3 linked regions of the Homo sapiens genome follow. The protein of the gene in region 2 interacts with the protein of the main gene of each other region in a pairwise test. Each region holds a gene or a part of one and is shown on either strand. Other genes may lie near its edges. The genes, in order: EFCAB11, AKR1B1 and SHBG.

Region 1 (7,162 bases), on a different chromosome or scaffold from region 2:
CTAGGCAGATAGGGGCAGGGCCCCAGTGAAACCCCACCTGCAAACCAAAGACAGTTTAAAGCCTGAAAGCCAAGCTACAAGTGTTGGGTAAATCCACGGACCGGATTGATAACCCCTCTTCCCACTTGGCACACTTTCCTCTGATCAATCCCCACCCTTCACCTACTTTACATATATCTACCCTTCCCTAATTGGTTTTTTACATTGTCATGCCCACCTTTGAGTGGTGCCTTTGTTTTAGCCTTTTTTGCATACTCACAAACCATGGAGCACACACTCCCTCATTCTGAGCCCATAAAAGCCCCAGACTCAGTCACACCAGCGAACTGCCCACCTTGGGGTCAGGGCAGGGGCCATCCACTTGGGGTCCCGTCTCTGCTGAGAACTGTCTCATCACTGAGTAAAACTCACCTCCGCCCTTTTCCCCTTCGGTTGTCAGCCTAACCTCATTATTCTTGGACGCAGGACAAGAAATTCGGACCAGCTAAACAGCGAGTGCAAATAGAGCTATAACCCTGTAGCACTCCGTTCCGCTAGTGAAGCAATGGGAGAGGGAGCTGCTGGCTGCCACACACCCCCATTCATTGGGCTGCAGATGGTGGGACTAAAAGAGCTGTTAATACATCTCTATTTGCCTGGTGTCTCCAAGTGTTTGGGCACTACTGCATCCCCCTCGTCTGGACACCAGAATCTGCTACCAGAGTCACTTGCCATACACCCAGGCCATCCACAAGCCCTACATGGAGCCTGTGACTGGGCCAGCACTTGGAACAGCCAGCCGGGCCTCCAGGCTTGCTCACTCACTCACAAACCGACTCCTCGCGGGCTGAGCATGCAGTCATAGTGGCCACGGGATCTGGGCGGGGATGAAAGACAAATGCATTCTGCCAGGCTGAGTGGGCAGGGCACCTCCTGCAGCCAGCCCAGGGCTGGAGGTCTCCAGCTGGCAAAGCGGCCCTGAAATAAATCCTGTGTCATGTGTTAAGAGAATAAAGCAAACTGGGGAGAAGGCAGGTGAGTGTGAGTGAAATTTGGCAAACACTGCACTAACATGAAAAATCTAAGAAATCTTCCCACCAAATGCTAGCTCAGGACACTGTTAGCACTTTTATTAAGGACTTTAAAACATGTTGTGGATATAAAAGGGTACTCCATTTAGAGCTACTAGTGTTTCCTCACTCCCCACTATATGAGACCCAGCTGGGGCATTTCTCTTTCACCTCCAGCTGCTCCTTCTCATTGAGCTTAAAGACCATCAGCTGGGCCTGGAGGCCATGCTCCTCAATTGAGTTCCTGTGTGGCCAGTAATAGGCAAACATGGTCCCTTGTCTCAAACCCGGCCATGACTAGGGAGTAAATGTGCACTTGGGCAGGTTAGTTAACTGCTGAGCCTCAGTTTTTTAGTCTGTGAAATGGATATCATGCTTACCCCCTGGAGTTCATTCATTCAATAACTTACTGGGCAGCTATTATGTACCAAAAACTGGGAATGAGGCGTTAACAATATAGTTTCTACCCTAGCAGAGCTAATTTCAGGGCAGAAGAGACAGACCCACACATAAAAATTTTAATAGCCAAGATGAGTTAGACATTCATTACATTTTATAAGTATGAGACAGAAAAATAGGGGTGACCTTTGGAATATACTTAAAAAGTAACATATAAATGAGACCCAGAGGGCCAAAAGGAACCTGCTGTCTAAATGATGGGGTGAAGAGCATTCCCAAGTAGAGGGAACCCAGCCGGCAGAGGTGGGAAAGAGGTCATAAGAAAGGACTTAGGCAAGGCAGGCAGTGGTCCGAAGCGGGTGAGGGGAGAAGACTTGTTAAAGAAATTGGATTTTATGCAATGATCAATGGGACCCCACTGAGGGCTTTAAGAAGGGGAGTCCGATTTACATTTATTTTTTTGAGACAGAGTCTCGCTCTGCCGCTCAGGCTGGAGCGCAATGGCGCAATCTCGGCTCACTCCAACCTCTCTGCCTCCCAGGTTCAAGCAATTCTCCTACCTTAGCCTCCCGAGGAGCTAGGATTACAGGCATCCACCATCACGCTCGGCTAATTTTTCTATTTTTGTAGAGACGGGGTTTCACCATGTTGCCCGGGCTGATCTCAAACTCCTAACCTCAAGTGATTCAGCCGCCTCGGCCTCCCAAAGTGCTAGGATGACAGGCGTGAGTCACCGCGCCCGGCCTTCGATTTGCCTTTTTAATACAGCTGTGTGCTCCAACTCTGCGGAGAATGGGTTGAAGACAAAGGAAGTGAGAGGGCTCTTGCTGAAGGCGTTGGGGACGGAGCAGATTCAGAACGTGAGGAAGTGACGGCAGCAGCTGCTAACCTTACTGCGTGCTCATTTGGGGCCGGCCAGGCACGATTCGAAGCGCCTCACCAAGTGTAAACTCGCTTCACCCTCAGGACAACTCTATACTACGTACCGTGACCGTCCTCCTATACTGGGAAACCGAGCACAGAAAGCTTAAGCGCCTGGCACGTGGTGGGCGCTTTCCTACTCACTTTCTGGGACCACGCACCTGTAAGCTTAGGTCTGGGAATAAAAACCCGAGCAGGGGCCCCTAGCGCCGCGCCCCGGCAGGACACAGGTCTCCGCAGCGCCCGTGCGCGCCCCCTGAGGCGCTGTGATCGGAGGAAACCGAGGCCCCGGGGCCGAGGCGACCCTGCCCCATCTTCCCGGCCGCGCCGCTTCCTCGCGGTCCGCCTCCAGCCCTGCCGGACCCCAGCAGCCCGCGCACCGCGACTCGGCCAGGAGCAGGATCCCGGGCCCGACCGCAGCCCGCGAGAGACCGCACCGAGTCCGCGCCCACTGCCGCCCAACACGTACCTGAGGCGCACAGAACCAACGCTTGCCTCGGATCCCGCCCCTTCGGCGGCCGCCGCGCATGCGCGCAGTTCAAACCCTGGCGGCAGCGGCTTGTGCCTCGAGGCCCGGCCCCTTCCCCTTCCGGAGAGCCCACCGCTGGGTCCTAAAGCCCGCCGGGTGTTTACCCAGGACGGGGCTGGGGAAACCTGGTCTCTCCTAGCTCTTGGCTTACTTCCTGGAGACTTCTTAAAACGAGAGGAGAACCAGAAAGGCGTCCCCTAACTTCGCTCTAGTTAACTAATAGCAAGACTCACCCTCTTTACAGGATTCTCATGGCTCAGGCTCCCAGGGCTCCATGCAGCGGCGTTTGGTTTAAAGTGGAGAGAGGATACGCTTAGGTTAAAGGCAGCTGCAAGGAGACCTGTGTCCTGGGAGGGGCTGGGTGCAGACTTTGAAATCTGCTGCAAAATAAAAAGTTAAATGAGTTCCCATTGGACTCAGAACCTCGAATGTCTGTTCCTTCTTCGCAACAGTTGCGTTCTCGTAAAATCTTCTGAGAAAAGGAACTCGCCCCACGTTCCTTGCCTTTAATAAGGATGTTTGCTGTGGGATTTGGGCTCGGTGCTGTTTATGGTATTTATTCTTGGAATCTCTTTCACACTAGGCATCTCTTCCAGAGGACTGAGTGAAATACATCTGTGTAAATATAACGGCTCGTTTCGTTCTTTCATTGAAGATCTACTTTGTGCCAGGCACAGTGCTAGGTGCTGGGATTATCTTGAGGACATAACAGATGTAGTAGCTGCCCTAGGAGCTCGATCCCAATGACTTGCTGATCTGAACGAGAATCCTGGACTTGGCTCTTTTCGTTTGGTTCTTCTTGTTTGTTCACAGTCTTTTTGTCTCCTATAACGTTTAGCATAGTGTCATAGATCTAAATGATTAAAAGTAACCTATTGCAAGATGGAGGGAGAGAATGAAATAAATCATGAACCAGGCATTGAACCAGCACCTAGAAGCGCTTGGATTTCCAGCCGCGCTCAACGAGTTAAGGGACAGTCAGGGGGTGGAGCCAAGTGCTGGGGGCAGGCCTGGGCGCCTCACTGCCAGGGCGGCTCCAAGGAAACGTAATTAAACAAAGACTCTGGCCAATAGCCCTGCGGGATTAACGCGAGTGGCTGGCAGGTTGTCCAATGGGAGGAGACGTCGGAGTTGCGCGGTGAAGTTCGGCTTCCTGAGCCGCGGTGGGCGTGGCCGCGGTAGGCTGCCAGCCAGGCTGGGAAAGCGGTGGTAGCTGGTTGGGTTGCTGGGGCTCGGTTGTTGTAGTCGCGATGTTCTTCTCCGAGGCCAGAGCCAGGTCGCGGACGTGGGAAGCCAGTCCCTCGGAACACAGGAAGTGGGTGGAAGTAGGTTTCCGGAGGGCGACTGAGCCTCGGACTTCAGCTTGGCCTGGGCCTCTCGCTTCCTCTCCCGTGTCTGGGTCTCACTCTGCCGGGTGTGCAGATAAGACCTGGGCTGCCTGTCCAAAGGGTCGTGGTTAATGACTGATCCTGGAGCTGCAGGGCTCCTGGCTCCCCGTCCAGGACTACGGCTACCTCCAAGTTCCATCTCCTTTCTCTCTATATAGTCTATTAATGGTAACCTTGAGTCTGCATCTCTCCCGCCTTTCAAAGCCAGCCCCTTTGCCTCACCTTCCTAACTCCAGGACTGAATTTTGGGTAGAATTTATCTCAGTGGCCTAAATGAATTAATTTGCGTCACCTAGCGGTTAACTCGTTTGCACTTTGAGGGAAATTTCAGCCCATGTTTAAGAAAATTTCAGTCCATCTTTAAGATTTCTTGAGAATTAATATTGGGATAATGAAATTCTATTTTCATACTCTACCGCTGGGCCAAGTTTTAGATTTTCGAGGTCCAAACTGTATAATAAACTAGTAATAAAAATAAACCATTTCTGTCTCATTAACTAAAGCTATTTAATGTTCTTCAGGTATTTAAAGCATGTGATGAAGATCACAAAGGATATCTCAGCAGAGAGGACTTTAAAACTGCTGTTGTAATGCTGTTTGGGTACAAGCCCTCCAAGGTAGAGCTTTCTTATATATTTGGGGATGGGGTAGACGATCAAAGGTGAATGGATCCTAAGAAAAGTTCACAGGGCTAGCTTAGGATGTTTATAAATTGCTTTATAAGCAATTTCAGAGATGTGTCCAGTGCTGAATTTTAGCTTCCTCTTAACACCTCAGCCCAGAGATGAAGTAGAAATCTTTTCCACTGGAGTCTACACAAGCCTATCTCACCACCAGGCTGCTAATAACTACTATAAATACAAGATGCTAGAGAGGTGCCAAGAGGGAAGACTGAGAGGGGAGTGTTGGTAACAGGAGAAATTTACATAGGACATGACATAGTCTCTTTCTCGTTTTACTTTTGTTGCTTTGTTTATAAAATACATCCACGGTCAAAAAATTAAAACAGTGCAGAAAGGTATAAAGTTGAGCATAAAATCCGCTCGCCGCCTACCAGAGGGTCCCACTCCTAGGGGATTACCATTAACAGTTTTTTTGTGTAATTCTGAAATTTTCTATCCATGACATACATATGCATAGTCTTTTATTGAAAACATAAATGGGTAAATATTGTGCCTACTTTAACTTGCTTTTCTCATTTAACAATATATCAACCTAAAAGCACACACCACTACTGCATTTTAAAATATGGTTGCATATTCTTTTTAGCCAGGTTCCTGTCTGGGGTTATATAGGTGGGGTTTTTTTTTTTTTTCTGCCAACATTGCTGCAATGATACACACATTTATGTCCTTGTGGCTGTATATCTGTGGAATAAGTTCCTAGAAGTATAACTGCTAGGTCATGGAATATGTACGTTTAAAATTTTGTTAGATATTTGCTCTCCAGAAAAGATTGCACCAATTCACCAATAATGAGAGTTGAGCTGAGCCTCCATGAACCTCCTGCTTGAGTAGGGCAAGTTTCCTGCTCACCCCTGTCTTTATGCTTTTCTGCTTTCCTGTTACATTCATTCGAGAGACAACACCCTTCTTGTTAAGCTGGAATTAGTCAGAGTCAAGATATTGTCCAGATTCAAGAAATTGAGCTGCCACCATCAAGCAAAGGAAGCACTCAGAGCTCAGCCTGGAATGCCATCCCTCACTCTCATTAGACCAGACAGCTTGGCAGTTAATTAGGGCCCAGCTGTTCTCCTCATGAGTGGACTGTGCCTTTCTGTCAGATTGAAAGCCCAGCAAAGCCAGGGACCCTGTGATGTCATGCCTCTCCGCCCTATTTGTGTCAACAGAACATACTTACTGTGAAGTTGTGATGCACAATAAGTATTAATATATTCTCTTGACCCAAGTAGGTTGCATGAACAGCTCAGGTGGGTTCAGAGTGGCTCAGCTATGAGGGGCTGCCTAGTTACTGAGAAGCTTATTATGGAGCTCAGAGAAGTAGTCAGGGCTGACTCTTAGAAATGGCAGCTCTCCTGTTTACCTGTAATCATTTCAGTTGGAATTACAAAGCAGGTCAGCTGAAAAGAGTCAGCCTGTGAAGCATTGTATTTAACTTGGATTCACCTGGAAAGGTATCTTGTCTCATTTTTGCCTTTATCACCCTTGAGTCTATTTGGTTTCAATTTTAGAATGAGGAATTTAATGACAGATACAGTGATGTAACATACTGTACATACACTCCATGAAATTTAACAGATTTTACTTTTCATATTGAGGTGAGGTTTTCTATTTTATTTTTTAAGCAAATGAACTATTTAGTAACCGCAGGTCACTAAACGGTATTTACTAATAGCATGTCACCTATAAACTTAGTCATTTGTACAATGAACTTTTATTATGCAGGTGACACTTAATTTCTGTGAAATTCAACAGATTTTTTTAGACTAGGTTGAGGTTTGGGGTTTAATTTTTTAATATTGCTTTTGAGCAAATGAAATATTCACTGACTGCAGGTCATGAAGCAATAAAATACTTATATAATAAATCACTTATACATTCATGCAGTTTTTTACATAATTAAGTTTATTTATTTGTTGAGATGCAGTCTTGCTCTGTCACCCAGGCTAGAGTGTAGTGGCGTGATCTAGGCTCACTGCAACCTCCACTTTCCAGGTTCAAGCAATTCTCCTGCCTCATCCTCTTGAGTAGCTGGGACTACAGGTGCACACGACCATACCCGGTTCTTTTTTTTCTTTTTTTTTTTTTGTGTTTTTAGTAGAGATGGGGTTTCACCAATGTTGGCCAGTCTGGTCTCCAACTCCTGACCTCAAGTGATCCGCCCACCTCAGCCTCCCAAAGTGCTGGGATTACAGG
Region 2 (7,081 bases):
TGGCCCACATGTGGGCTTGGTGGAATGAAGATGGAGCCCCAGTGCTGGAGAAGTGCAATGGCTACGGCCCCCAGAGCAAGGCACAGTCCAGAAATGGCTCTAATCTCAAGATGGCGCCATGCTGCAGCAGCTTGGCTCACTAAGGGAAGGGTGTGTACACACCCTGTGCTCCTAATCCGGAGTGATACAGCTATATGGATTCCCAGAAGCTCTTCAAACTGGGCACGGGGCTTGCAAGGACTGTGGGATTATTTTGTAATGAGGACTGGAGTCATTTACAGTGGCAATGGAGACTGGTGAGGTTCTTTTACCTTCTCCCTAAAAGGGGACTTCCCTCCTGTCTCTGGGCTGATGCAATTGTGGCAGGCAAGATGGGGCTACAGAGGCCATGTGCCTCCATGGTACTCTCTTGGGCTTCCAATCACTACAAGTACCCCTTTACTCCCCCATTGCACTTTAATGCTCTTTTTTCATAATTGCAGTTAAATATTAGCGGTTTATTTATTCCCTTGGTCCTTTCTTATGGTGGGGACAAGAACTAGGCATTTCTAGTCAGCCTTCTTCCTGACGTCACTCATTCCAAAATTCTTAGTGTGAGTCACAGTTTAAAAATTTGAAAGCTACTGGTAGTGGTTAAGAGTTTGAGTGCTATAGTCAAATTCCTAGGTTTAAATATTGACCCTAACATTTACTTAATGTGAGATCTTAGCAATTTTTCTCACTTCTCTGCATCTCAGTTTCTTCACGTGTAACATGGATTGATCATAGTATCCATGAAAGGGGTGGTTATGAAGATTAAATGATTTAATGTACATAACTCAATAGATATATAAGCAGCAGCAGCAGCACCTTCATATAACATATGCCAAGTGCTGAACCATAATACAGTGTCCAAACCATAATAAAGACTCAGTAGTGGTTTGTCGTTGTGGAAGAGACTTCTGTTGCTCACCATACCCATTCACTTCTGTTTTCTGGCATACAGGAGGATGACACTTCCCCATCCCATTGAAGATAGGCCTGGCTGGGCTCTACCACCAGATCTGGTTAAAGGATTATAGGTAGAAGTGATGTGTGCCACTTCCAGGACTGAGCAATTGATTGCTCATTTGAGACTCTTAGGTTCTCTTTTGCCTTCCTAAGCCAAACCCTGAAACCTTGGGTTGGGACAGCAGGGAAACAATGTGGTGGGACCTCCATAGCTTGAGTCCCTGAGTGACAATGTGAACAGAGCCTACTGTCACCCTCAGCTCCACCAGCTTGTGTTGGACATGTAGCATATAACCTTTGTTTGTTTATAGAAGCTTTATTGATGTATAATTTACGTACCATATGATTTACCTTTTTAAATATGCAATTGGGTGGTTTTTTTGTATATTCAAACTTGTACCAGATCTCGCAGGGCCTTGAATGCCAGGCTCAAGAGTTTAGGTTTTATCCTATGGGAATTGGACAGTTCATAAGAAGTTGTCTTTTAATTCAAAATGTGTTCATTAAGGAAATAATCTGACAAAGAGTATTCCCCATTTCCTTCTGTCTTCTTCCTAAATTTCCTAAATGTTATAGGTTGTATTTTCCTTCTTAGCATCATTCCATAGCTATATGACTTTGTTTTCTACTTTCACCTTAACATTACCTCATATACATTTTTCTCTGTGTCTTTGTCATCTTTACTTTTGATGGCTACACCTTATCTCTTGCTATTGTTGGATATTTACAGTTTTACTTTAAGTATACAGCATTTTAAAAATACATACGCATATGTGTATATCTGTGTGCAGGCCTGGGACTAAGGGAAGGCAAGTGCCAAGGACATAAATGTAAAAAAGCTCCTACCTTCTGGCATGAAAATTTGTACCTGTGTACCTCATTTGTCTTACCTTGGTCCCAGCCCAGCCCTATACCTAGTGTGTGTGTGTGTGTGTGTGTGTGTGTGTGTGTGTGTGTGTGTGTGTGTTTTCCTTTTAAATTATTTCCTTAGGAAAAATTCCCATGATGGGAGATTACTGGTTCAGAGCATGTTAAGATTCCAATTACTAGAGTGTTTCTCAGGAGGATTCCATTGAAGGTTTTTTTCCCTTTTTCAAACAAAATTTTGATATGTATACTTATCAAAAGATGGGAGATCAAAAATCTTGAGATCAAAAATTTTGGTATGTGTACATTTTACAAAGATTACAGAGGCAATGGGGGATGTTAGGGGGCTATCACAATAGCATGTCCCAACTAGAGTGCTATTGTTGCTATAGAAATTCCACTGATACAACTTTTCATGTCTGCATGGCCCAGCCAAAATATTCTGGGTTTATTTATTTATTTTACAGACAGGGTCTTGCTATGTTGTCCAGGCTGGTCTCTAACTCCTGGGCTCAAGCAGTCATCCCACCTCAGCCTCCTGAGAAGCTGAGACTACAGGTATCACTCCAGCTTTAGACACAGTTATAACTTCATGCAATCAAGCTGTATACTCAATTATTATCAAACCAACAACAAAGCCTCTGATATTGAGTCCATGTCCCTAACAGACGACCCTTCTGTGTGTACCAACCTGGCCACTCAAGGTGTATCATTTTCACAAGAGATTAGCTCTTTGGATTTGGACCCAGGAGGTTCAATTGGCAGAGCAACCTCCAAGTCAAGAGGACTCTCATGGAGGAAGGAACTTGCTGTTTTACACAAAGCAAGTTCCCAGCTTTAGGCTCAAGTTCAAATTCTATTACTTGGGGACAAATGAATTTGCCCAATAGCAACAATTTTTACAAAAGTTACATGGAAAAATATCTGGGCTAGTCTGTTCTGTATAAATTTTTCCAGGAGGGAGCACTTTTAAAGAAAGCACCAAATGGAAAATCACCGGCATGGAGTTTAGAGAGACCTGGTGCTTGAGTCACTACCAGGCAGATGGAGTTCCCAATCTTGCATAATTAGGGGAAAGATCGGAGGGTGATGGAGCAGAAAGAGCAGTTGGGGTGAGGTAGAGTATCATGAAGAGAGGTTGTTGGAAAGAAACCAAAATTGTCTTCAAGGATCTTCAAGTGACTTTTCTTAGGCTATCTTGGAAAAATGTGTGTTTCTACCTGCCAATTAGGGTGATCAATTTACTATTTTGTACCTTCTAATTTGAAATACTGGAAGCTACAATATTAGAGTCAACTTTTTCTTCTGTGGTTTTCTGTCTGTTCACTTTTCTTCCTCTAGAGAGTTTTGATAAGTTACTGTACTGGAACTTACTGCTTTGATAGAGTCTCACTTTCCAAAGACTGATGAAATTTGTCTTACTGATTCTGAATGGACAGCCTTACTTTCCAAATTCTTCTGAGAGTTCTGGATCAAGCCCATCAAGGCTTTCTAACCTCAAGAACATCAAAGGATGCTGGCTTTTGGTGGAAGGCTTGCTGAACCACACCTAGTATGCACAGACACAGCTAACACCTAGAGTGGGGTGCAAAGAGAGATCTAGAAGGCTACAAAAAGTCTGGGCAAACCCATATTTTGTGAAGGTGCTTTGCAAAAGGATTGCAAGCCATTTTTCTGGCATGCACCTTTGTCTAAGAACAAAGTGCGGTAAACTATATGTGTAGTCAGTATGATTCACATAGATTAAGGACAAGGTATTCGTCAGATTCCCAAAGAGCATCAAACTGGGGTTGGACAACAAAGGCATTCTTCTGGGCTCTTAATGAAACCAAAACTTATTTCTAGTCTATGTATTTATGGGATGCCTGTTATTTTCGCTAAAGCATTCGCTTTCCCACCAGATACAGCAGCTGAGGAACTCCTTTCTGCCACGCGGGGCGCGGGCGAGCGTTGGGGGCGGAAAGAATCCGCTGCCACTAGGACCAGGCGGAAGAAGCATCCCCGCCGACCCTTGGGGAAGGCCGCCGCGGCACCCCCAGCGCAACCAATCAGAAGGCTCCTTCGCGCAGCGGCGCGCCAACCGCAGGCGCCCTTTCTGCCGACCTCACGGGCTATTTAAAGGTACGCGCCGCGGCCAAGGCCGCACCGTACTGGGCGGGGGTCTGGGGAGCGCAGCAGCCATGGCAAGCCGTCTCCTGCTCAACAACGGCGCCAAGATGCCCATCCTGGGGTTGGGTACCTGGAAGGTAGGTGCTCGTGGGGGCGCGGGCCCGGGGCTCGCCTCACACTCTCCGCGCGGCCTGTATTGGCGAGGGACCCCGAGTGACCCTGAGCAGCTCGCCCCGCGGACGCCCGGCGTGCTGGGAGCCACGCGCGGGCTTGCAGGGTCCCCAGCGGGCTGGGGTCGGCCTTGCAGAGACCGGGGGCCTTGGCTCCCCGGGTTGGCCCTGGGCGTCAGGGCAGCATCCTGCGAGTGGGGTTTGGGAGCAGCTCACGGGAGCCCCCGCCCTACCGCGGGCAACCCTTGATGGGCGGCCCACCAGTCCGCATTTTGGGTCCTAGCGGGCGCCCCAAGCGGCACAACGCGAGAGGGAGGCGGGGAAAGTGGGCTTCACAGACCGGTGGACCTCGGGCGCAGACAGGGACGTGGAGCCGTCGGCAAGGTGTGGGAGCGCAGACCCAGCCTCCTTTCCCTCGAGGCACCTGTAGCCCGGTTGCCTCACTTGTAAATAGTTGGTCTCAATCGTTTCGATTCTTGCCCTCCCTGAGGAATAAGCATCTCAAGCCGGTAGAGGGCAGAGAATTAGGTGGCGCGAGTTTGCCCGGACCCAGCTGTTAACAAGGCGCAGTGCGGAGCTCCTCGGCCAGGCGCCGCCTCGGGGTGCCCTGGGTCTGGAACTCGGGAGAAAAATCTGGGCACCCCGTAGCTAGTTGATAATTCAGGAGGCGCCAAGGTTAGCATTTTCCCTGTAAAACCTCAACACCACACAGCGTCCCCGAGAAGTGCCTAGCCGGATGAGAATGACAATAGGACATGAAACATCATAGGATATGAAAAATGATAATATGATATGAAAAACCAAAAATAATAGCCTGAGCCTGATTATCTGAAAATTGAGCAACAAAGGTGGTGGTATGGGAGCTGAGGCAAAACCTAGAATTTTTAACCTTCTAAGTATTGCATATTATATTCCACAGCCATAACCTGGGTTTCTCAGTTTCTGTTTTTGTTGTTTGCTTGTTTGTTTGTGACAGGGTCTCGTTGCCCAAGCTGGGGTGCAGTGGCACAATCATGGTTCATTGCAGCCTGGAACTCCTGGGCTCAAGTGATCCTCCTGCCTCAGCACTGCGGGTAGCTGGGACTACAGGCGCTCACCACCACACCTGGCTAATCTTTTTTCTTCCCCGCAGAGACAGTCTCCGCTTGTTGCTTAGGGTGATCTCCAATTCCTGGGCTCAAAGCGCTCCTCCCACCTCGCCTCCCAAAGCTACAGGTGTGAACCATCTGGCAGGCCCACGTCCCAGGTTTTTCTCTTAAAATTTGAATATGGGCCTGGGCGTTGGATATTTACACACAGACAAGGGAAGAAAACAACAGAAAGAACTGAGTGAACTGTGAGATGTTTGAAATAGGACAGAAGAGTTTACATGTACCCTAAAACCTGCTGTTGAAAATTAGTAAATATAAGGTAAGAAAAAGGTCATTTGCATCAGGGAGAGTGTTTCTTGGCCAGAATGATCAGGGTACGTGATTTGTTTCCTCCAAAAACTCCAGTGGTGTCTCTAAGGTTGTAATTGAATTACAACCATGACACCAAGCTAATTTCCATCTGTTGCATGTTATGCTCTTGGAATGGATGCAGAAGGATGCTTTCTTGGCAATAGCAAATACTTTCTAAGCATGATGCAACGCACAGATATATACATGTAACTGGAATAAAAATTACTTAACAGTACTTAACCTATGTAGGCTGCATTTCAATATTTTTTTCTATTCCATTTTTCCAAAAATTATTGTCATACCTCCAGAAGCTAGTTTTGTGACCCATCATTTGAAAATCACTACTCTAGGGTAAATAAGGAGTAAAAGTTTATTTTTTTTTTTTTGAGACAGGGGCTCAGTGTCACCCAGGCTGGAGTGCAGTGGCATGATCATGATTCACTGTAGCCTTAACCTCTTGGGCTCAAGTGGTCCTCATACCTCAGCCTCCCAAGTAGCTGGGACCACAGGTGTGTGCCACCACACTCGGGTAGTTTGTTTTTAATTTTTTGTAGAGACAGGTTTCCCTATGTTGTCCAGGCTGAGGAGTAAAAGTTTATGAAAGAGGGTTTCAGATTATTCACTTGAGCACTCAATGCCCCAAAAAGCTATGTATTTGTTTAAGATAACATCACATCATAACATCTGTACATTTAGGTTATGCATTCCAGTAGACAGAGTTCATTGAGAAATTGGATAATGTCTGCTTCATTCATTACTATTTCTAGCACTTCTCACAGTGCCTGGCAAATATAGGAGTAGGTATCCAAAAGTTATGTGTTGAATTCATATGAAGAAGTAAAACGACTTTAGAGATAGCTGTATGGTGAAAACGCCCACTTGTATTCCTGTGGATGAGGAGATCAGGTTGGTGTAGAATTGTACGGTGGGGGCAGCGGGGAATGGTGGGTCAAAGTAATGGTATAAGGATGGACTTGGAATCAACTTCCTTTTTTTTTTTAATGACTTAAAACCTTTCCCTGGGGCCGGGCGCGGTGGCTCACACCTGTAACCCCAGCACTTTGGGAGGCAGAGGCGGGCAGATCATGAGGTCAGAAGATAGAGACCGTCCTGGCTAACATGGTGAAACCCCGTCTCTACTAAAAATACAAAAAATTAGCCCGGCATCGTGGCACGCACCTGTAGTCCCAGCTACTTGGGAGGCTGAGGCAGGAAAATCGCTTGAACCCCAGATGTGGAGGTTGCAGTGAGCCGAGGTCCCGCCACTGCACTCCAGCCTGGGCGATGGAGCAAGACTCCATCTAAAAAAACAACCAAACAAAAAAACCTTTCCCTTGTATGTGTGTATGTATTCTTTCACAGATGCTCGACAGAAGATGTGATCCTTTGCCTGTCTTTGTGACAGCTGGAGGAGGCCCTGCAGGCAGGTGCAGTTCCTTATTCTCCTGGGTCTTCCCATGCCGTAGCGGCTGTGTTGTACCTTTCAGACCCTCAGCAGGGCTC
Region 3 (6,925 bases), on a different chromosome or scaffold from region 2:
TTCTCCCCACTTTTCCACTCCTCCAACCTGAGTTTGCAAAAGCACTACCTTCCACTGCCCCCATATCTTCTTCTTGTGGCCTATTCTTCTTCCCTCCCAGAGGTTTCCTTCCCCTCAAAATGTGCCGCCTCCCTTGAGCTGTTTCCAATGTTGTGCTCATGAACTTGAACATCATTCTCTCTTACCTGGTAAAGCCCCCAGGAAGAGACGCCCTTGAGGCTTGGCCCAGAGGTTAAGGAGGGGAGCCAGGCCTAAGGGAGGCAGGGCAAGGGCCTTCATCTTCGACCCTTGGCTCAAGACCACCCTGGACATACTCAGCTTCAGCTGAAGAGGGAGTCCCAAGACCAGGGGCAGATCCAGCCCTGGCCCCGACCCAGAAGACAACACCACCTTCTGCAGAGTGTGTGGGAAAGGGACGGTAGAGAGAGAGGGAAGAATGAGCCGGGCCTACTGCCTGTGGCCTCACCCCTAGCTGCCTTAATTCTGCCTCTTCGCTATGCCTCCACCTACTGGCCATTCTCACCACTTAAATCCTGCCCCAATTTTTTTTGGCTTGACCCTTTTTGAAACCACACCTGCCCCAAGTAAATATGCAGTCTAAGTCAAAACTGTTTGCTTGCTGTGGGGAGCTTCAAGATATGTCCCTCGCCCCTACCACCCACCTGAGTGCCATCCATAAGCCTTATTTTTATTTTTATTTTTTTGAGACAGGGTCTCACTGTGGCCCAGGTCAGAGTGCAGTGGCACATCATAGCTCACTGCAGCTTCAAACTCCTGGGCTCAAGTGAACCTCCTGCCTCAGGCTCCTAAATAGCTAGGGCAGCAGACATGTGCTACCATGCCTGGCTAATTTTTTTTTTTTTTTAGACAGAGGTCTCTGCTATGTTGCCCAGGCTGGTGTCAAACTCCTGGCCTCAAGTGATCCTCTGGTCTTGGCCTCCAGCACCTGGGATTACAGGCAAGCACCACCATGCCTGGCTAATTATTAATGAAAAACAATTCTGTGGAGCCAGTCTTGTTATGTTCCCTGGGCTGGAAACCTTCCTAATATTGACATGTTGGACTCCCCTCTTCCCTCATTGCTCCAGGCTCCACTGAATACAGGCAATGCCCCACTGTCCCCCTTTACTTGATCTTGGAGGTGGAGACTGAGCCAAGATGGGTTCTCTGGTGTCCCAAGAGCAAGGAGGTGGCCTGAGCCTGCTGCCTGCTTGAGTCCCAGGTCCAAAGAGAAGGCCCAGGGCTCTGCATGAGGCTGGGGAATGTCTGTGGGGAGAAATGATTATCCTGAGGCCTCAAAGCTGGGGTCTCAAGGAGGAAAGGGGCCAGTGGTAGAGGGGGACAGAGGCAGGCTGAGCTGGCCAGGGTGGGAAAAATAGACTCCGAGGAAATCTACCTCGGAGATTGAATTCTGCCTGAGTCCCTGGAGGGAGAAATATCCCGGGATTTGATTCTACATCACAGCTTCTGAGGCTAGTGGGGGCAGATGCTGAGATCTCGGCCTGTTTGTCCAGCCAGGAATCCCGGCGCAGGCAGCCATCCAGGGCAGGAACCAGCTGGAGTGTGACAGAGATAAGATACGGGGATGTAGAAATCAGGGCATCGGAGCCGCAGTCCCGACCTCCCTGCCCTCAGTTGACTCCCCTCTGAGCATTTGGCCTCCCCCTTGCAGCTCTCAACCCTTCCCTTCTCCCTAAAAGTGTGGACTTAGATTCCCACGGCCAGCCACCCAGCAGTGCTTTACCAAGTCTTGGCTAGGGTTCCACCCCTGGGGTGTAGTTACCGGCAACCGAAGGTTGGAAGCGGGGAAGAGCAGCCCCCCAAGCGCAATCCTCATGATGGGATGGCGTTTGCTGGTCAGGGGCCCAGAGACCTGTCTCAGGCGCAGCACCTCCTCCCCATCCACCTCCAGCAGCACAGAGTCCCCCTCCATCTTGACTTCCACCTGCAGGAAGGTGGGAAGCAAAATCAGAGGCCCCTGGGATCTGTTTCTGCCACCTTCCTGTGAGGCAGCCTAGTACTATAGTGGAAAGAACATGCCTTAAAGAAGCAGCTAGCATCCTTGGCCTTGGGTCACTCAGCTCTTGTCACTTATATACTGACTGAGCCTTAGAATTCCCATCAGAAAAGATGGGGCCAAGAATAGCTACTTTGTGGGGGTTCGTGTGGATTAAACGAGATGACAGTGGTAGAGGGATGCCCAATAACTTGGTTTTGTTCCCTTTCCTCAGACCAGCTCCAGACATCCCTCCCCTGAGGACCAGAGCTAGCTTACCTGGTGCCATCTCCCATCATCCAGCCGTGGTCCAGCACCCACCGTAAGCTGGGCCCAGTGATTGTGCAGTTGGATCTCAGGCCTGCCGTCTCGAAGTCCCAGCATAAACCAGTCATCCTTAGGGTTGGTATCCCCATAAAAAATCACTCCCTCTGGGTCCCAGGTTCGAACCTCAAAGGAGGAGGAGGTTCTGGAAGGACACAGAAGGAAAGATTGTGTATGTCATGTGTCCTTTGAGAACCAGTGTGGGTTTGGGGGAGATGGTGTTCACAGATAAGGAAAGGAAGACAGGGAAAAGAGAAGAGCTGATGGAGAGAGGGCAGAACCAGGGGACTGGGTCAAGGGCTAGGCCAACCCCATACTTTGTGATCTTGGTGAGGTCAAAGGTCATGACAGCGATAGGCTCTTGTCCTGGGCCATTGCTGAGGTGGACAGCCGGAGGGTCGTGGGCACTCTATCAGAAAGAGAAAACAAACAAAGCTGAGTAGGGACATGTCAGAGACAGACAGAGGGAGAGGCCCTGCTACAGGGCCAGAGGAGAGAAGGGAAGACTGCATGAGCTGAGTGCCCTGTCCCGCTCCTGCACCTGGGTGGGGAGAACAGGTCTCAGGGCCCATCCCTGGCGGGTGTGACGCAGTAGTAGCAACAGCAGCAACAGCAGCAGGCGCGAGGTAGCCAGTGGGCCTCTGCTCTCCATAATCAGCCACTGTCCACTCGGCGGCTCAGACAACTCTTGGGAGAATGTGTAGAGGCAGGCAGCCTTGCGTGTGGGCGGTGGAGGGTTAAAGGTTGCCCGGGGAGGAGGGGGTAAAGGAAACAGGGGCACTGACCCTTGACCCCTGCCCAGGGGCCCAGTCACAAGACTCAGCTATCACCCCTCTGGGGATCAATGGGGTGAAGGACAGAGTCCCCTCCACTATCATCCTCCACTGCCGAGAAAGTTTCTGAACTGGGAGAGGATATTCCATCTCCCCTCTCCTCCTCTAGGGCCTGATCTAGGTCCTCCAAGATTTCTGTCCACTCGGGGAGCCTGCATTCACAGGCCTGAGGTCTAGAAACAGTCCTCCCCTGCGTCCCAAGTAGCATCCTGTATCAGGACTAGAAATGAGATAATGGAATCCTAAATTTCTAGCTGAGTGACCTTGGGCAAGTCACTTCACCTCTGTGCTTCAGTGTCCTTGTCTGTAAAATGAGGAAAATAATACTTTACGGGGTGACTGTGAAAGAGGGTTCATTGAGAAAATGCAGGCACAGTGCCTGGCATCTGGTCTGAACTCCTCCCCCAGTCTTTTCCCAGGCCTCTGAGGCCTGTCTCCCAAGAAGGTATTGTCTGTGTGTATGATTCAGTGAATATTAAGAAGGGACCTGCCCCCCGCCTCTCAGTTATCTTCCCTTATCCATTTATTACAGGGCCTAAACAGTCTAGCAGTAGAAATCACCCACTCCCTGACCCATTTTATTTTATTTTATTTTATTTTATTTTATTTTATTTTAGACAGAGTCTTGCTCTATCACCCAGGCTGGAGTGCAGTGGCGTGATCTCGGCTCACTGCTGCCTCTGCCTCTCGAGTTCAAGCGATCCTCCTGTCTCAGCCTCCTTAGTAGTTGGGACTACAGGTGCACGCACCACCACGCCCAGCAAATTTTTTTGTGTTTTTAGTAGAGACGGGGATTTCACCACGTTGCCCAGGCTGATCTCGAACCTCTGACCTGAAATGATCCGCCCACCTCAGCCTCCCAAAGTACCTGGATTACAGGCATTAGCCACAAGGCCCGACCCTCCCTGACGCATTTTATTTTATTTATTTATTTTGAGATGGAGTTTCGCTTTTGTTGCCCAGGCTGGAGTGCAATGGCACGATCTCGGCTCACTGTAACCTCCACCTCCCAGGTTCAAGCGATTCTCCTGTCTCAGCCTCCCGAGTAGCTGGGAGTAAAGGCATGCGCCACCACACCTGTCTAATTTTTGTATTTTTAGTAGAGACGGGGTTTCACCATGTTGGTCAGGCTGGTCTCAAATTCCTGATCTCAGGTGATCCGCCTGCCTCTGCCTCCCAAAATGCTGGGATTACAGGTGTGAGCCACTGTGCCCACCCCATGACCCATTTTAAAATGCAAATGACAGACCGGGCTTGGTGGGTCACATCTGTAATCCCAGCACTTTAGAAGGCTGAGGCGGGCAGATCACTTGAGGTCAGGAGTTCCAGACCAGCCTGGCCAACATAGTGAAACCCCGTCTCTACTAAAAATACAAAAATTAGCCAGGTATGGTTGCCCATGCCTGTAATCCCAGCTACTCCGAGGGTGAGGCAGGAGAATCGCTTGAACCCAGGAGGGAGAGGTTGCAGTGAGCCGAGATCGCGCCACTGCACTCCAGCCTGAGTGACAGAGTGAGAATCCGTTAAAACAAAAAAAAAGAGAAGAAAAAAGAAAAAAAAATTAGCCGGGCGTGCCGGTGCGCGACTGTAGTTCCAGCTACTCCGGAGGCTGAGACAGGAGGATCGCTTGAACTCGGGAGGTGGAGGCTGCAGTGAGCAGAGATCGCGCCACTACACCCCAGCCTGGGCGACAAAGCAATACACCATCTCCAAAAATAAATAAATAAATAAATATAAAAATAAAACATTTAAAAAATGCAAATGCCCCCAAGAGGTAACACTTCATGCTACTCAAGAGCTGCAGGAAACAGCTTTCAGAGCTGAGGGTCTTAAGGCTTACCCAGGGTCTGGGCGGGTGAGTGAGCCTGAGGCTAAAGCAGGTTATCACTGCATATGTCAATTTAAAAAGCACTGCGGGGGAGCCTTTGAACCGCGGGGTATCTCGACCCAGGTTGGGACACCCACACAACCGCAAGGAAGCCGCTTCACTCCAACCTTGAACTCTACCCAGGAGCCCAGTCACAAGATCCAGCTGTCGGGGGTGGGGCTTGGGGGGGACGCGGCCGTGCCTGTTCTCCAAGCTGATTGGCTGACAGTTGTGCCCCCTGCTGCGACAGAATTCGAGGGGGTGGGGCTATGCCCGGACAGAGGATCGCCTCGCTGGCCTACTCTCTCCTCCCGTACGGCGCCGGAATCCCAGCTCCACTTACCAGGCCGCGGCTACCCCGCCGTCCCCCCCGACTCCCGCCACCCCGCTCTCTCAGGCTCTTCAGGATCCAAGTCCGTAGGCCCTTTAAGGGGTCTAGTTGCCGTTTGCGAGGCCCTGGGACTTTGGTCCCAGACAGCGGGGATCCGGATGGCTTCCGTGCGGATCCGAGAGGCCAAGGAGGGAGACTGTGGAGATATCCTGAGGCTGATTCGGGTGAAGACTGCAGGCCGGTAACCCGGGGGTCAGAGTGGCGCGGCCAGAGCGGGGTCGTAGGAGGCGGGGGCAGGGGGAGGGGCTCGCCTTGGGAACCTGCTCGGGGAGCAGCGGGGCCCTTCTGCTCTAATCTAGCTTCCGTACCCACGCCTTAGGAGCTAGCCGAATTCGAAAAACTCTCGGATCAGGTGAAGATCAGTGAAGAAGGTGGGGGCTCAGCGCCCAGGTTCTGGCGGAGGCTGGGGAGGAAATGAGGGATGGGTTCCCCAGGCGACAGCTCCAGGCTGGGCATACACCCACGTCCTCTTTCTCTATCTCTTTGTCACAACTCCAATCTCGGCAGCCCTGAGAGCAGATGGCTTTGGAGACAATCCTTTCTATCACTGTTTGGTAGCAGAGATTCTTCCAGCGCCCGGGAAGCTACTGGGTAAGAGCACCTGGCCCTTAGAAGTCCACCTCTCCAGCCGGCCTCAGAGGTCTCCCCACAGGCTTCCAGAAGCCTTACTCCCCTTTTCTCTCTCTCAGGGCCCTGCGTGGTGGGCTATGGGATATACTATTTCATCTACAGTACATGGAAGGGACGCACCATTTATCTGGAGGATATCTATGTGATGCCGGAATATCGGGGTACTGGGCAGAAGCTGAGGCTGGGGTGGGAGCAAAGCACCCCACAGACCCCACTGTTATCCCCTGTCCCCAGAGCCCAGCCGGTGTCATTTTCTGATCCCCTTCAGCTCAAACAATAGCTATTTTTTGCCTCTTTCTCTCCACAACAGGTCAAGGGATTGGTTCCAAAATAATCAAAAAGGTGGCTGAGGTGAGGAGATGGGTGGGGCGACAAGTGAGGACCTGAAGAAGCAAGGGTATATGGAGGGGGGACCCGGGTTGAAAGAGGGAGTGAGAAAACCTTTTTCTTTTTTGACCCCAGAAAAGTTAGTGTTGTCTTCTCCCACAGGTGGCCTTGGATAAGGGCTGCTCCCAATTCCGCCTGGCCGTCCTGGACTGGAACCAGAGGGCCATGGACTTGTACAAGGCCCTAGGAGCCCAAGATCTGACGGAAGCTGAGGGCTGGCACTTCTTCTGCTTTCAAGGAGAGGCAACGAGAAAGTTGGCAGGAAAGTGACGCCATCCCTAGGAGGATCTCTGTCTTGAGTTTCTCCTTCCCCATCAGCTGAAGCACTCTTCAGAGACTACGTCCACAGACACTGATGCTGAGGCCTCCCTGGAGGAAGGAGGGTTAGGGGTGCCTATCCTCAAGTATTGGAAGAGCAGAATTGAGGGAGAGACCTTTCTTCCTTGTTGAGGGTGAAAAATAAATAAGAATTACATGTCCTGATGTGGTGTTGGGTC

The links.
Region 1: the proteins of AKR1B1 (region 2) and EFCAB11 interact in binary tests that used the Homo sapiens proteins (3 or more experiments, as listed by UniProt).
Region 3: the proteins of AKR1B1 (region 2) and SHBG interact in a two-hybrid assay, tested with the Homo sapiens proteins (one study listed by BioGRID).

What each region holds. Positions count from the first base shown.
Region 1 is NC_000014.9:89,951,647-89,958,808, reverse strand, and holds the start of EFCAB11 (EF-hand calcium-binding domain-containing protein 11), read left to right. Parts: upstream 1-4,078; 5' UTR 4,079-4,148; coding exon 4,149-4,223; intron 4,224-4,272; exon of another isoform or gene 4,273-4,451; coding exon of another isoform or gene 4,452-4,454; intron 4,455-4,807; coding exon 4,808-4,903; intron 4,904-7,162.
Region 2 is NC_000007.14:134,456,019-134,463,099, reverse strand, and holds the start of AKR1B1 (aldo-keto reductase family 1 member B1), read left to right. Parts: upstream 1-3,999; 5' UTR 4,000-4,037; coding exon 4,038-4,103; intron 4,104-7,081. UniProt on the Homo sapiens protein: Catalyzes the NADPH-dependent reduction of a wide variety of carbonyl-containing compounds to their corresponding alcohols.
Region 3 is NC_000017.11:7,626,220-7,633,144, reverse strand, and holds the start of SHBG (sex hormone-binding globulin isoform 1 precursor), read right to left. Parts: upstream 3,011-6,925; 5' UTR 2,973-3,010; coding exon 2,862-2,972; intron 2,730-2,861; coding exon 2,638-2,729; intron 2,466-2,637; coding exon 2,276-2,465; intron 1,946-2,275; coding exon 1,784-1,945; intron 1,557-1,783; coding exon 1,397-1,556; intron 1,267-1,396; coding exon 1,130-1,266; intron 394-1,129; coding exon 186-393; intron 1-185. Other genes in the region: SAT2 (thialysine N-epsilon-acetyltransferase), read left to right, coding at 5,290-5,592, 5,731-5,782, 5,919-6,002, 6,101-6,202, 6,352-6,392, 6,531-6,698. UniProt on the Homo sapiens protein: Functions as an androgen transport protein, but may also be involved in receptor mediated processes. Each dimer binds one molecule of steroid. Specific for 5-alpha-dihydrotestosterone, testosterone, and 17-beta-estradiol.